Homo sapiens: one gene and its partner. The protein of the gene in region 1 interacts with the protein of each later gene in a biochemical or structural test. Each region holds a gene or a part of one and is shown on either strand. Other genes may lie near its edges.

Region 1 (7,030 bases):
ACACCACTCCACCCAGCCTAGGTGACAAAGCACGATCCCATCTCAACAATAAAAAAATAAGTGGGCAGTGGCATAGGGAAATACGTTACCTCTTCTTGTTAAGGACATGGGGACTAGATCCTACTTGGAAAGTCACAGGTTTTAAATTGCCCAGAAAGCACTGGATTTTAGAAGAAGCCTCCAACTGCAGTGTGGCAGGAAGCCTGAGGACGCCAGGGACTCAGTCAAGGCAGACACACATGGAAGCTGTTGCTACAGTCCAGGAGCCATCCATGGTGGCCTGGACCAAGAATGGGGACTGGACAGTGAACATAAGTGGGCTGTTTCCTGGACTGCTTGAACTTGGAGGCAGATCAAGCATCGCTTACCCATGGTTTGGATGTGGCAGCTGAGGAAGAAAGTGGAGCCTAAGGCTCTAAGGGACCTTTTTAAAAATGATAAAGGTTGGCTGGGCTCGGTGGCTCACACATGTAATCCCAGCACTTTGGGAGGCCAAGGCGGGCGGATCACCTGAGGTCAGGAATTCGAGAAGAGCCTGACCAACATGGAGAAACCCCTCTCTACTAAAAATACAAAATTAGCCGGGCGTGCATGCCTGTAATCCCAGCTACTCGGGAGGCTGAAGCAGGAGAGTCGCTTGAACCCGGGAGGCGGAAGTTGCAGTGAGCCGAGATTGCGCCATTGCACTCCAGCCTGGGCAACAAGAGCAAAACTCCGTCTCAAAAAAAAAAAAAAAAAAAAAAAAAAAAAAAAAAAGATAAAGGTTGTGTAAAAACCTTAACAATAGTTGCCACTCAGTGTCAAGGATAAGCTGCTATGAAGGTTTTGACTGTTATGATAAAATGTCATTATCACTTCTTTTACTATTCTGTCCTAAGTCTCTATGTATATGAGGAACAAAACTACTAATATAAAGGCAACCAGCTGTGTCTAAAATCCTCTAAACTTCCTTTCCTGAATGACATCTTTAGCTGAGAAAGGCTCAACCGGGAAGAAATTCAAGGTACTGGCATAATCTGATACTGACTGAAATTTTATTACCAATCACTATTTGTTACAAATCTATGTCTTATAAGAATATGATTATTAAACTACAGAATTCTTAAAGTGCAACCTTATATTTAAGCTTAGTGCAATCAAAAGATAAAATCGACTCCTCTTTAAGTCTTCTGATTAAAACTTTTACTTAATTTATTCAAATAGGTAAAAGAAAAAGGTTATTCCACTCCTATTAGTGTATATTCATTCCTTGTCCACGCTGCGCTTCCACAAACCAAGTCAACATCTGCACTGGGCAATGTGACAGCCTTTCCATGGCCTTTCCCTCATGAAGAATGGAAGCCGTATTTGGCCACAAGTCTTGACTGATACTGCTGGAGAATTTCTGGTAGTTACTACTTCTTTGGAATTTCTAACTTTATATAATTAACTGCTCAGTTCAACCTCTTTTCAATCATCGAGCAATGTCATCACTCTAGGAAACGAACATGAGTCGGCTGGAAGAAAGTTCATGCCATTTCTACATTGGATTTCCCCCTAGCTCATGATGCTACAATTTTTTTTAACCTATCTGTGCTTCCCCTGCCCTGTCCTGTAGAAATAACCACAATGAAAGCAAATAACTTATGTTGCTATTATGTTCTTCATTTTTCCATTAAGAGAACTTTAAGACGGAGTCTTGGCTCTGTCTTCCAGGCTGGAGCCCAATGGTGCAATCCTGGCTTACCACAACCTCTGCCTGCTGGGTTCGAACAATTCTCCTGCCTCAGCCTCCCAAGTAGCTGGGACTACACGTAAGCACCACCACATCCAGCTAATTTTTTTTTGTTGTTGTATTTTCAGTAGAGACAGGGTTTTGCCATGTTGGCCAGACTGGTCTCGAATTCCTGACCTCAGGAGATCCACCCCATCGGCCTCCCAAAGTGCTGGGGTTACAGGCGTGAGCCACCACGCCCAGCCAAGAGAACTTTTTACTTACTTTTTGAGGAGAGTAGGGTAAACTTTAGTGTTACTTCCTGAAATCTATAAACCAAAACTTAAAAGCACAATCAACAAATCTAGAAACGCTAGGAATTTCCTCACGTTAAAAAAATAAAAGATCCAAGAAGCTCAAAAAATAACAACTTTCTGCACTGCCTTCTTTTAAAGACACGTTGATCTCAGGACAGAAAAGCCAAACTCTTCCAATGACAATTACAATTGCAAACCAAAATACAGAGCATATATTGCTGTCTAAAAGTGAGTAGATCTTGGCCAGGCGCAGTGGCTCTTCCCTGTAATCCCAGCAAGAGGCCAAGGCGGGTGGATCACTTCAGGCCAGGAGTTCGAGACCAGACTGACCAACACAGCGAAACTGCATCTCTATTAAAAATACAAAAAATTAGCTGAGTGTGGTGGCAGGCGCCTGTAATCCCAGCTACTCAGGAGGCTGAGGCAGAAGTATCGCTTGAGGCCACGGGGTAGAGGTTGCAGTGAGCTGAGATCGCATCACTGCACTCCAGCCTGAGCAACAGAGCGAGACTCTCTGACTCAAAAAACAAAAAAAAGTATGTAGATCTTAAGGACAAGGCAGTAGAATTTAGTAACTGTCAAATATATATTCCTACTTATTGAATAAATTAAAGACCTCGCATGAAGGTCCTCGATTTACACTGACAAACAAGGTATGGGGATTCTGTAACGGTAGGCCTTATATATAACTGCGTTAACTATGCAGATAAAATCTGTCCAGAAAAATACACCACTAGAGTAGTGCAGTGCTAAATAAACACAAAACCCAATCTAAAATTATGATGTTCTACTACCAATATCTGACTTCACAATCAATGTAAAGAAAGCTAGCCATAAGCCAGGCACGGTGGCTCATGCCTGTAATCCTAGCACTTTAGGAGGGCAAGGTGGGCGGACTGTCTGACCTTAGGAGTTCAAGACCAGCCTGGGCAGCACAGTGAAACCCCGTCTCTACTAAAATACAAAAGAAATTAGCTGGGTGTGGTGGCACACGCCTGTAATCTCAGCTACTCAGGAGGCTGAGGCAGGAGAATTGCTTGAACCTGGGAGGCAGAGGTTGCAGTGAGCTGATTTCGTGCCACTGCACTCCAGCCTGGCGACAGAGCAAGACTCTGTTTCTACCAAAAAAAAAAAAAAAAAGCCAGCAATTATTACCACTAGAAGCTTCAAAAAATTAAGATAGTGCATAAAGTTTCTCACTTAGGCTGAAGACACTATGTACAACTGAGCTGAAGTCTGAATCCACCCTTCCAGAATCAAGGCTAACCCTGGTGTAGTTGATACAAGCCAGCTGAACACACAAGAGTTCAAAAATAAGAATTTATATGTAACTGCACACAGTCCCTATTCTTTTTCAAAATCAGGCCGGGCATGGTGGCTGACGCCTGTAATCCCATCACTTTGGGAGGCCGAGGCAGGTGGATCACCTGAGGTCAGGAGTTCCAGACCAGCCTGGCCAAGATGGTGAAACCTGTCTCAACTAAGAATACAAAAATTAGCCAGGCATGGTGGTGGGTGCCTGTAAGCCCAGCTACTCAGGAGGCTGAGGCAGGAGAATCGCCTGAACCTGGGATGCGGAGATTGCAGTGAGCAGAGATCATGCCATTGCACTCCAGCCTGGGCAACAGAGCAAGACTCCACCTCAAAAAGAGCAAAACAAAACAAAACAAAAAACAAAATCAACTCCTCTATAAATCCTCTTAAAAGGTTCCCTCTGATAACAGGAAGACATGATAAAGCAAATACAGCAAAATGAACAAGTAGAGCAAAATACTGTCATAGAATCCAGGCCATGGGTATGTGCATGTTGACTGTACAATGCTTTCCACTAGTCTGTTTGAAATTTTTCATATTAAGACATTGCAGGAAAATATTCCTACTGATCACATGCAATCCTGCCTTGGTGGCAAAGACTCTTGACAAAAACATCTCCTTTCAAGGAAGACTACAATTTTAAGAGCTACGTAGTGATGGAGATGTGAAAAAGTAGGCAGTACTAAGGTATCAGATGACTAATGCAAAAAGACAGAAAGTTATAAAGGGTGAATTTAAGGTTTCTAAAAATGGCTTCCTGATGCTCCTCCCACTTAGCCCAACTCCAAACTTTTACTGTAACTATCATTTGAAATTAAAACACACACACACACACACATTATGTATAATTTTTTTGGCTTATCAAGAAAAAAAACCACATTATGTATAAAATCATCAACAAAGATCAGAGCCATATACTACACCTACATTTGGAGGCCAGTGCAGAATTCAAATACCTTTACCACAGGTCAAAAATATGAAACCCCATGCCTTGAGAGGAAAACACACAAAACAGCTGAAAAGCTTAAACAAATTCATGGTTCACGCCACCACCGTTCAACAGAAGTAAAGAATAAATGTAAAGAATGTTCCTGTAAGGATGATGTCACGGAAGGCATTTTTCACATTCAGCTAAGAAACTCCTGGACAGTAATGTATGTCCAAGTCAGACATTGGGCTAGACAGGCCACTAGCCCAATCTGGACTCCACTTTGTATAAAGAGTGAAACAGAGAGGGCTTCAAGTCATTCGTTCCCATTCCTTTAATCAACCAACACCAAAACAACACTATTAAAATAGTTGTGGCCGGGCGCAGTGGCTCGGGCCTGTAATTCCATCACTTTGGGAGGCCAAAGCAGGAGAACTGCTTGAACCCAGGAGGCAGAGGTTGCCATGAGCCCATATCATGCCACTGCACCCCGGCCTGGGTGACAGAGCGAGACTCCATCTCAAAAAATAGTAATAAGCAATAAAAAAATAAAAAATAAAATAATAAAACTGTTGTTTAGGCCAGGGACGATGGCTCACGCCCATAATCCCAGCACTTTGGGAGGCCAAGGCGGGCAGATCGCCTAAGGTCAGGAGTTCGAAACCAACCTGGTCAACATGGTGAAACCCTGTCTCTATTAAAAATACAAAAAATTGCCAGGCGTAGTGGCTCATGCCTGTAATCCCAGTACTTTTTGAGAGGCTAAGGCAGGTGGATAACCTGAGGTCAGGCGTTTGAGACCAACCTGGCTAACAAGGAGAAACCTCGTCTCTATTAAAAATACGAAATTAGTCAGTGTGGTGGAGCGTGACTGTAATCCCACCTACTCGACAAGCTGAGGCAGGAGAATCGCTTGAACCCAGGAGGAGGAGGTTGCAGTGAGCCGAGATCGCACCACTGCACTCCAACCTTTGCAAAAAGGGCGAAAACTCCTTCTCAAAAAAAAAAAAAAAAAAAAAATTACCTCGGCATGGTAGCAGGCACGTGTAGTTCCAGCTACTTGGGAGGCTGACGCAGGAGAATCACTTGAACCCAGGAGGTGGAGGCTGCAGTGAGCCAATATAAAATAAAAACAAATAAATAATAAAAGTTGTTTATAAATACCTGAATGTAAGATGCTGTCTTTTTTTTCCTTTTTGAGACGGAGTCTCACTCTGTTACCCAGGCTGGAGTGCAGTGGCACGATATTGGCTCACTGCAACTTCCACCTCCCTTGATTCAAACAATTCCCCTGCCTCAGCCTCCCGAGTAGCTAGGATTACAGGCGCCCCCCACCATCCTTGGCTAATTTTTTTGTATTTTTAGTAGAGACAGGGTTTCACCATATTGGCCAGACTGGTCTCGAACTCCTGACTTCAGGCAATCCGCCTGCCTTGGCCTCCCAAAGTTCTGGGATTACAGGCATGAGCCATCGCGCCCGGGTGATGCTGTCTTACCTAGGAAAAGCTGAGAGAAAATCTTGGGGCAAAGGTCCACTAAGTGAAAGTTAAAAGGTGGGGCAGCAGTAAGGTGGAGGAAAAAAAAATTATAGACCCCATGCTCAGAAAGGACTATCTTAGAATAAAAGAGTATCAACCCTATGTAATATTTCTTGGCCAATCTCAATTAAATTGCTATTCAGGAAATCTAGAATTTTCTAACATGCTTTGCAAATTATTTCTGACTTTTTTTCTTTTTTTTTCAAGACAGAGCCTTGCTCTTGTCGCCCAGGCTGGAGTGCAGTGACACAATCTCAGCTCACTGCAACTTCCGCCTTCCGGGTTCAAGTGATTCTCCTGCCTCAGCATCCTGAGTAGCTGGGATTACAGGCGCCCACCACCACGCCCGGCTAATTTTTGTACTTTTAGTAGAGACAGGGTTTTGCCATGTTGGCCAGGCTGGTCTCGAGCTCCTGACCTCAGGTGATCCGCCTGCCTCGGCCTCCCAAAGTGCTGAGATTACAGGCATGAGCCACCGCACCTGGCAGACATATTTTCATACGGGTGTATTATCAGTCTCTATCAGTCAGGGTCCCAGAAGGAAAAAACTCATCCCAGAAGATTGAAATAGAGATTTTCATGAAGGAATTATTTACACAGCCCTGTATGCAGAGTTAAGGAGCAAACAAGATGGCAAGGCATCCAATTCTAGAAATGATAAGACAGAACCATCCCTAGGGATGATGAGACAAGGAGCAGGAGTTTCCTTAAGAGCCCAGTGTAAGCAGAGGCACAGGAGGGCAGGATGGAGGGACGTACAGCCTGAAAGGACACTGCCATGGTCCAGGCAAAGGGTCAAAGCAGGAACAGATGAAGATGTATCTCCTTTAAAAACAAACAAACAAAAAAAGACAGTTTCCCTCTGTCACCCAAGCTGGAGTGCAATGGTACAATCTTGGCTCACTGCAACCTCCACCTCCCAAGTTCAAGCGATTCTCCTGCCTCAACCTCCTGAATAGCTAGGATTACAGGCGTGCCCAGCTAATTTTTCTATTTTTAGTAGAGACGAGGTTTCGCCATATTGGCCAGACTGGTCTCAAACTCCTGACCTCAGGTGAACCGCCCACCTCGGCCTCCCAAAGTGCTGGGATTACAGGCTTGAGCTACCGTGCCCGGCCAAAGACGTATCTCTAATAGTTTTTGTTTTTGCTTTTTTGAGACAAGGTCTCACTCTGTCGCACGGGCTGGAGTGCAATGGCACAATCTCAGCTCACTACAACCTCCACCTCCTGGGTTTCAA
Region 2 (6,528 bases), on another chromosome or scaffold:
CTCAGCCCTGTTCGTAATAGGTAAGGCAGCTCCATAGTTGAGTTCTGGAAATCTGGGGTGCTATACTTTGATCATCCAGAGAACAGCATAATCCCTTTTTTTTTTTTTTTTTTTTTTTTTTTTTGAGACGGAGTCTCGCCCTATCACCAGACTGGACTGCAGTGGTGATAGGGTATGGTACTCAGCTCACTACAACCTCTGCCTCCCGGGTTCAATCAATTCTCCTGCCTCAGCCTTCTGAGTAGCTGGGACTGCAGGTGCATGCCACTATGCCCAGCTAATTTTTGTATTTTTAATAGAGATAGGGTTTCACCATGTTGGCCAGGATGGCCTCGATCTGACCTCGTGATCCGCCCGCCTCGGTCTCCCAAAGTGCTGGGATTACAGATGTGAGCCACTGTGCCCGGCTGCATAATACCTTTTCCTTTTGGCCCCCCAAAATTTCCTGGCACGTAACATATTGTGAATGAGTGATAACTTAAATACGTTCAATAATAACAATTTATCTTTGGTAATACTGAGTGTGCTTATATACACAGCACCTACTCTTTCTAGAAAACCTCCTCCCTTGGTGCTTTTTATACGGACCCCCTTTTGTTTATTTACTTCTCCCAGTCCTCAAACATGCATGTATTCAAACACATACACCCTCTCCTTCCCCAGTGTCCTCCGTTTTCTCCTTTTATCATTAGGTTTCCTTTTTGGCCATGTGGAAGTGAAGAGAATTCCTATGATGTCATCCCTTCACACGCCACTTGTGGAACTCCTCAGTGGTTCCTCTTTGATAGGATGTAAGTGCTGCAGGCAGAGAGAGGTTGCCATTCCTCTCTCCAAGTCCCAGAGCAGATGGTACTTGGGCTTGGCAATCTGTGCTGCTTCAGCTGCAGAAGTACTTTTGACCTGTATTTTCTGCAGCCCTTTTCACTCTTGAAGACTTGGTTCATCTCCTTTCCCCATTTCACAGAATATTTTTATATGAGAATATAAAAACCATACCCTTACGATGTTATCTTTCAACAGGTTTAAAAATGTTATATTTGAAATCAGTCCAACAGAAGAAGTTGGAGACTTCGAAGTGAAAGCCAAATTCATGGGAGTTCAAATGGAGACTTTTATGTTACATTATCAGGTGGGTATGCACCAGCAGGAACCAAAAACTTTCTGGATGAGATTCTTGTCCAAGTAGGAGAAATAGATAAAGAGGAGACTCATCTGAGGAAAGCTGTCTACATTCAGCAGTGAGCTAGGCTCCACACTGCGGGGAAAGAAGCTGAGGGTTTCAGCATGTCTGGTTTGGTGTGTGCGCTCTGGAGAGCTTTTGCAGATGTCACTCTTCAGAAAACATTTAGCTGAAGCTTCCACTTAGTGCTGCCACTAAATCGAGCTGACACCTTGGACTTGAACAAAATGCAGAAGTACACATGCTGACACTGCAGAATTCTAAGCCCACTCAGTAGCTTGAAATCTTTTTGTCATTTTGATTTGATATAGGTACTTAAAAGTTAGATACATTCTGACAAGGTGTGTGTAAAGTTTATGTTTGTAAACTGAATTCTATCTTAAATCCAAAAAGAACTCGGGAGTAATTCATTTTTGTAGCATAAAGATCCCTAAGTTTTATTTTGAAATATCTGATTTTTACACGTTAAAAAATAACAGGGCATCGAGAGGATTCCTAGGTGACATCCAGACTCCTTTAGCTTTGTGTGTGTGGCACCGGTTAGTCTGCTTCTCTCTCCTTTCTTGCACTGCTTCACACAGCCATGCCCTGCCAGCCCGGGCAGGTGCCTTCCTGTCAATGTACATTTGGGCTTCTGCTCATGCTGCCCTCCCTCCCCTCCCCTGCCTCCCAACCCCGCCCCTTTTGTTCCTCCATGGAGTACTTCCATGGGTGTGCCTCCCCCAGCCAAGCCATAATAGGTGGTTTCCCCTTCGCTTCTGTAGCCCTTGCAGACATCCTCTGTTTACAGTAGGTGTTGACTTACTTCCCCTCTCCCCGCTAAAGCCATAAACTCCTTAAGGACAGGTAGCATTTCTTAGTCATCTTCGTTTCCTTCTCAATGACCAGTAGACCATTAAAACATGTTAGCTAAACAAATGTGAAATGATTTTGTGATGCACACAGCTAACTAAAGTACTTCCACCAAAAAAAAAAAAAGAATAGGAACCTCTTATTCCCTCAGTTTCACCAAATTATTTTTTTAATTTAAAATTTTTTATTTACGTGGAGTTATCAGAACATATTTTTATTTTTAAATTTTTTAACCAAATCATGTTAGGCCAACCAGTCTGCCTGTGGTAATTTATTAATTTATGTACAAATTCATTAAATGTGGGGTAACTGCCAGGTGTGGGGTATTCTGTTAGGCACAGGTCCCAGCAGCCCTCATGGAGCTGCTAGGATTTTTCCAACAGATAATTGAACTTGTGGGGTCCTTTCTTTTTTTGGAGGGGGGGGCAGAGTCTCGCCCTGTCTCCCAGACTGGAGTGTAGTGGCGTGTTCTCCATTCACTGCAACCTCCACCTCGTGGGTTCAAGTGATTCTCCTGCCTCAGCCTCCTGAGTGGCTGGGATTACAGGCGCACACCATCACGCCCGGCTAATTTTTTTTTTTTTTGAGACAGTTTCGCTCTTATTGCCCAAGCTGCAGTGCAATGGCACAATCTCGGCTCACTGCAACCTCCGCCTCCTGGGTTCAAGTGATTCTCCTGCCTCAGCCTCCTGAGTAGCTGAGAATATAGGCGTGCACCACCACGCCCCAACGCCCAGCTAATTTTTGTATTTTTAGTAGAAACAGGGTTTCGCCATGTTGGCCAGGCTGGTCTCTAACTCGTGACTTCGTGATCCGCCTGCCTCGGCCTCCCAAAGTGCTGGGATGACAGGCGTGAGCCACCACACCCGGCCTTGTGGGGTCCTTTCAAGACTTTTGACCCTTGCTTTCTCATCACCACTCTTATAAAGTTCAGAAGTGAGACCACTCAGATTTCTTAAACTTGTTCAGGACAATGGTGAAAGTAGCAGGAAAAGCGGGAGCATTGCAGTCAGATCTGGATTTATCGCCTCCATCTCTGTCCTGTTGTGCAAGTCATTTAACATCTCTGAGTCTCAGTAGCTCATCTTTAAAGTTAGAATAATCGCACCTCATAAAAATTTTTGTGAGGACTTTAAAAGATACTATGTAATGTGCTTACACAATGCCAAGCACATGGCAGACACCTAATAAAACATCAAGTTCTCTCTTTTCCCCTTGCCTTCGGGATAGAAAGTGTTCTCATATGGAATAGAAATTAAGAATCTATCAGATAGTATTAAGGTGACATTACTAGCCTTATCTCATTTCCCCGTGCTTAGTATATTTCATCATAGGTTTAAATGCTTCACCTTTTCCAGATTTATTAAAACTAGTGACCCATAACATGGATGAAATGGGAAAATGTCATTGTGACTTCTGAAATAAAAAGCTTAGATGTGTGTGGCAATTGAACATGTTTCTTTTTCTTTCCATGTATGATGAATTTTGATATGAACAACATGACTTCCTAACTCCAAATCAACCAGAAGCCTCCCTTGGCCAATGTGCCCTATTGCTCCAGCTCTCAGGCTGGTTGTGCAGTGGGTAGTTGCCTAGCGTGGAACTTTTCTTTCGCCCCAGTTCACATCTGGCACACAAGGCAGGCCTCAGTCCATCTGGATCCCTCCCTACATTGTGTCCTTTTTCCTTGTTCCACAGACTTGATTAACTGTCAAAATGTTTTGTTTTGTTTTGTTTTGTTTTGTTAATAGGACCTGCTGCAGCTACAGTATGAAGGAGTTGCAGTCATGAAATTATTTGATAGAGCTAAAGTAAATGTCAACCTCCTGATCTTCCTTCTCAACAAAAAGTTCTACGGGAAGTAATTGATCGTTTGCTGCCAGCCCAGAAGGATGAAGGAAAGAAGCACCTCACAGCTCCTTTCTAGGTCCTTCTTTCCTCATTGGAAGCAAAGACCTAGCCAACAACAGCACCTCAATCTGATACACTCCCGATGCCACATTTTTAACTCCTCTCGCTCTGATGGGACATTTGTTACCCTTTTTTCATAGTGAAATTGTGTTTCAGGCTTAGTCTGACCTTTCTGGTTTCTTCATTTTCTTCCATTACTTAGGAAAGAGTGGAAACTCCACTAAAATTTCTCTGTGTTGTTACAGTCTTAGAGGTTGCAGTACTATATTGTAAGCTTTGGTGTTTGTTTAATTAGCAATAGGGATGGTAGGATTCAAATGTGTGTCATTTAGAAGTGGAAGCTATTAGCACCAATGACATAAATACATACAAGACACACAACTAAAATGTCATGTTATTAACAGTTATTAGGTTGTCATTTAAAAATAAAGTTCCTTTATATTTCTGTCCCATCAGGAAAACTGAAGGATATGGGGAATCATTGGTTATCTTCCATTGTGTTTTTCTTTATGGACAGGAGCTAATGGAAGTGACAGTCATGTTCAAAGGAAGCATTTCTAGAAAAAAGGAGATAATGTTTTTAAATTTCATTATCAAACTTGGGCAATTCTGTTTGTGTAACTCCCCGACTAGTGGATGGGAGAGTCCCATTGCTAAAATTCAGCTACTCAGATAAATTCAGAATGGGTCAAGGCACCTGCCTGTTTTTGTTGGTGCACAGAGATTGACTTGATTCAGAGAGACAATTCACTCCATCCCTATGGCAGAGGAATGGGTTAGCCCTAATGTAGAATGTCATTGTTTTTAAAACTGTTTTATATCTTAAGAGTGCCTTATTAAAGTATAGATGTATGTCTTAAAATGTGGGTGATAGGAATTTTAAAGATTTATATAATGCATCAAAAGCCTTAGAATAAGAAAAGCTTTTTTTAAATTGCTTTATCTGTATATCTGAACTCTTGAAACTTATAGCTAAAACACTAGGATTTATCTGCAGTGTTCAGGGAGATAATTCTGCCTTTAATTGTCTAAAACAAAAACAAAACCAGCCAACCTATGTTACACGTGAGATTAAAACCAATTTTTTCCCCATTTTTTCTCCTTTTTTCTCTTGCTGCCCACATTGTGCCTTTATTTTATGAGCCCCAGTTTTCTGGGCTTAGTTTAAAAAAAAAATCAAGTCTAAACATTGCATTTAGAAAGCTTTTGTTCTTGGATAAAAAGTCATACACTTTAAAAAAAAAAAAAACTTTTTCCAGGAAAATATATTGAAATCATGCTGCTGAGCCTCTATTTTCTTTCTTTGATGTTTTGATTCAGTATTCTTTTATCATAAATTTTTAGCATTTAAAAATTCACTGATGTACATTAAGCCAATAAACTGCTTTAATGAATAACAAACTATGTAGTGTGTCCCTATTATAAATGCATTGGAGAAGTATTTTTATGAGACTCTTTACTCAGGTGCATGGTTACAGCCCACAGGGAGGCATGGAGTGCCATGGAAGGATTCGCCACTACCCAGACCTTGTTTTTTGTTGTATTTTGGAAGACAGGTTTTTTAAAGAAACATTTTCCTCAGATTAAAAGATGATGCTATTACAACTAGCATTGCCTCAAAAACTGGGACCAACCAAAGTGTGTCAACCCTGTTTCCTTAAAAGAGGCTATGAATCCCAAAGGCCACATCCAAGACAGGCAATAATGAGCAGAGTTTACAGCTCCTTTAATAAAATGTGTCAGTAATTTTAAGGTTTATAGTTCCCTCAACACAATTGCTAATGCAGAATAGTGTAAAATGCGCTTCAAGAATGTTGATGATGATGATATAGAATTGTGGCTTTAGTAGCACAGAGGATGCCCCAACAAACTCATGGCGTTGAAACCACACAGTTCTCATTACTGTTATTTATTAGCTGTAGCATTCTCTGTCTCCTCTCTCTCCTCCTTTGACCTTCTCCTCGACCAGCCATCATGACATTTACCATGAATTTACTTCCTCCCAAGAGTTTGGACTGCCCGTCAGATTGTTGCTGCACATAGTTGCCTTTGTATCTCTGTATGAAATAAAAGGTCATTTGTTCATGTTTGTGTTTTTCTCAGTTTCATTGTTAACAGTTCCTGCTAAACACCTTGACTAGAGTGAGATGTATCAGTTAAAATCACAACAGCAGACAACCCCTTCCTTTTAAAGGAGAAAACGTAAGTCCACCATCAGATCATTGAATGTCTCAAAGTGACTTTTAATGTGTGAACGTGTGACTTTAGCCTTTTTAATGAATATGCTTAAGTTATCTTCACCATAAAAAGAAGGGTGTTGCGGGAAGCAAACATTATATGTCACTTAATTCTGATTGACGAACGGTGGAAAGTTTAAAATTGCAACAGCATTTAACCTTTTTTGACCAGCATACTGTTGTTGAGCACATAGACTGTGCCCCTTAGGGGGTTCCTATGTCACTTGGAAGTCACCAGAAAAGACTAGGGGATGTTGAATGTGGAAAAAGTAAATCACAGCAGTAAAAAAAGAAGAAAAGGGGCTGGCGTAGTGGCTCACACCTGTAATCCCAACACTTTAGGAGGCC

Evidence for each region. The genes of interacting proteins can lie anywhere in the genome.
Region 2: the proteins of RAC1 (region 1) and IQGAP1 form a complex in vitro, tested with the Homo sapiens proteins (3 studies listed by BioGRID).

The regions. Positions count from the first base shown.
Region 1 is NC_000007.14:6,377,511-6,384,540, reverse strand, and holds part of RAC1 (ras-related C3 botulinum toxin substrate 1), read right to left. Parts: intron 1-7,030. UniProt on the Homo sapiens protein: Plasma membrane-associated small GTPase which cycles between active GTP-bound and inactive GDP-bound states.
Region 2 is NC_000015.10:90,496,212-90,502,739, forward strand, and holds the end of IQGAP1 (ras GTPase-activating-like protein IQGAP1), read left to right. Parts: intron 1-1,020; coding exon 1,021-1,129; intron 1,130-3,783; coding exon 3,784-3,897; 3' UTR 3,898-6,028; downstream 6,029-6,528. UniProt on the Homo sapiens protein: Plays a crucial role in regulating the dynamics and assembly of the actin cytoskeleton.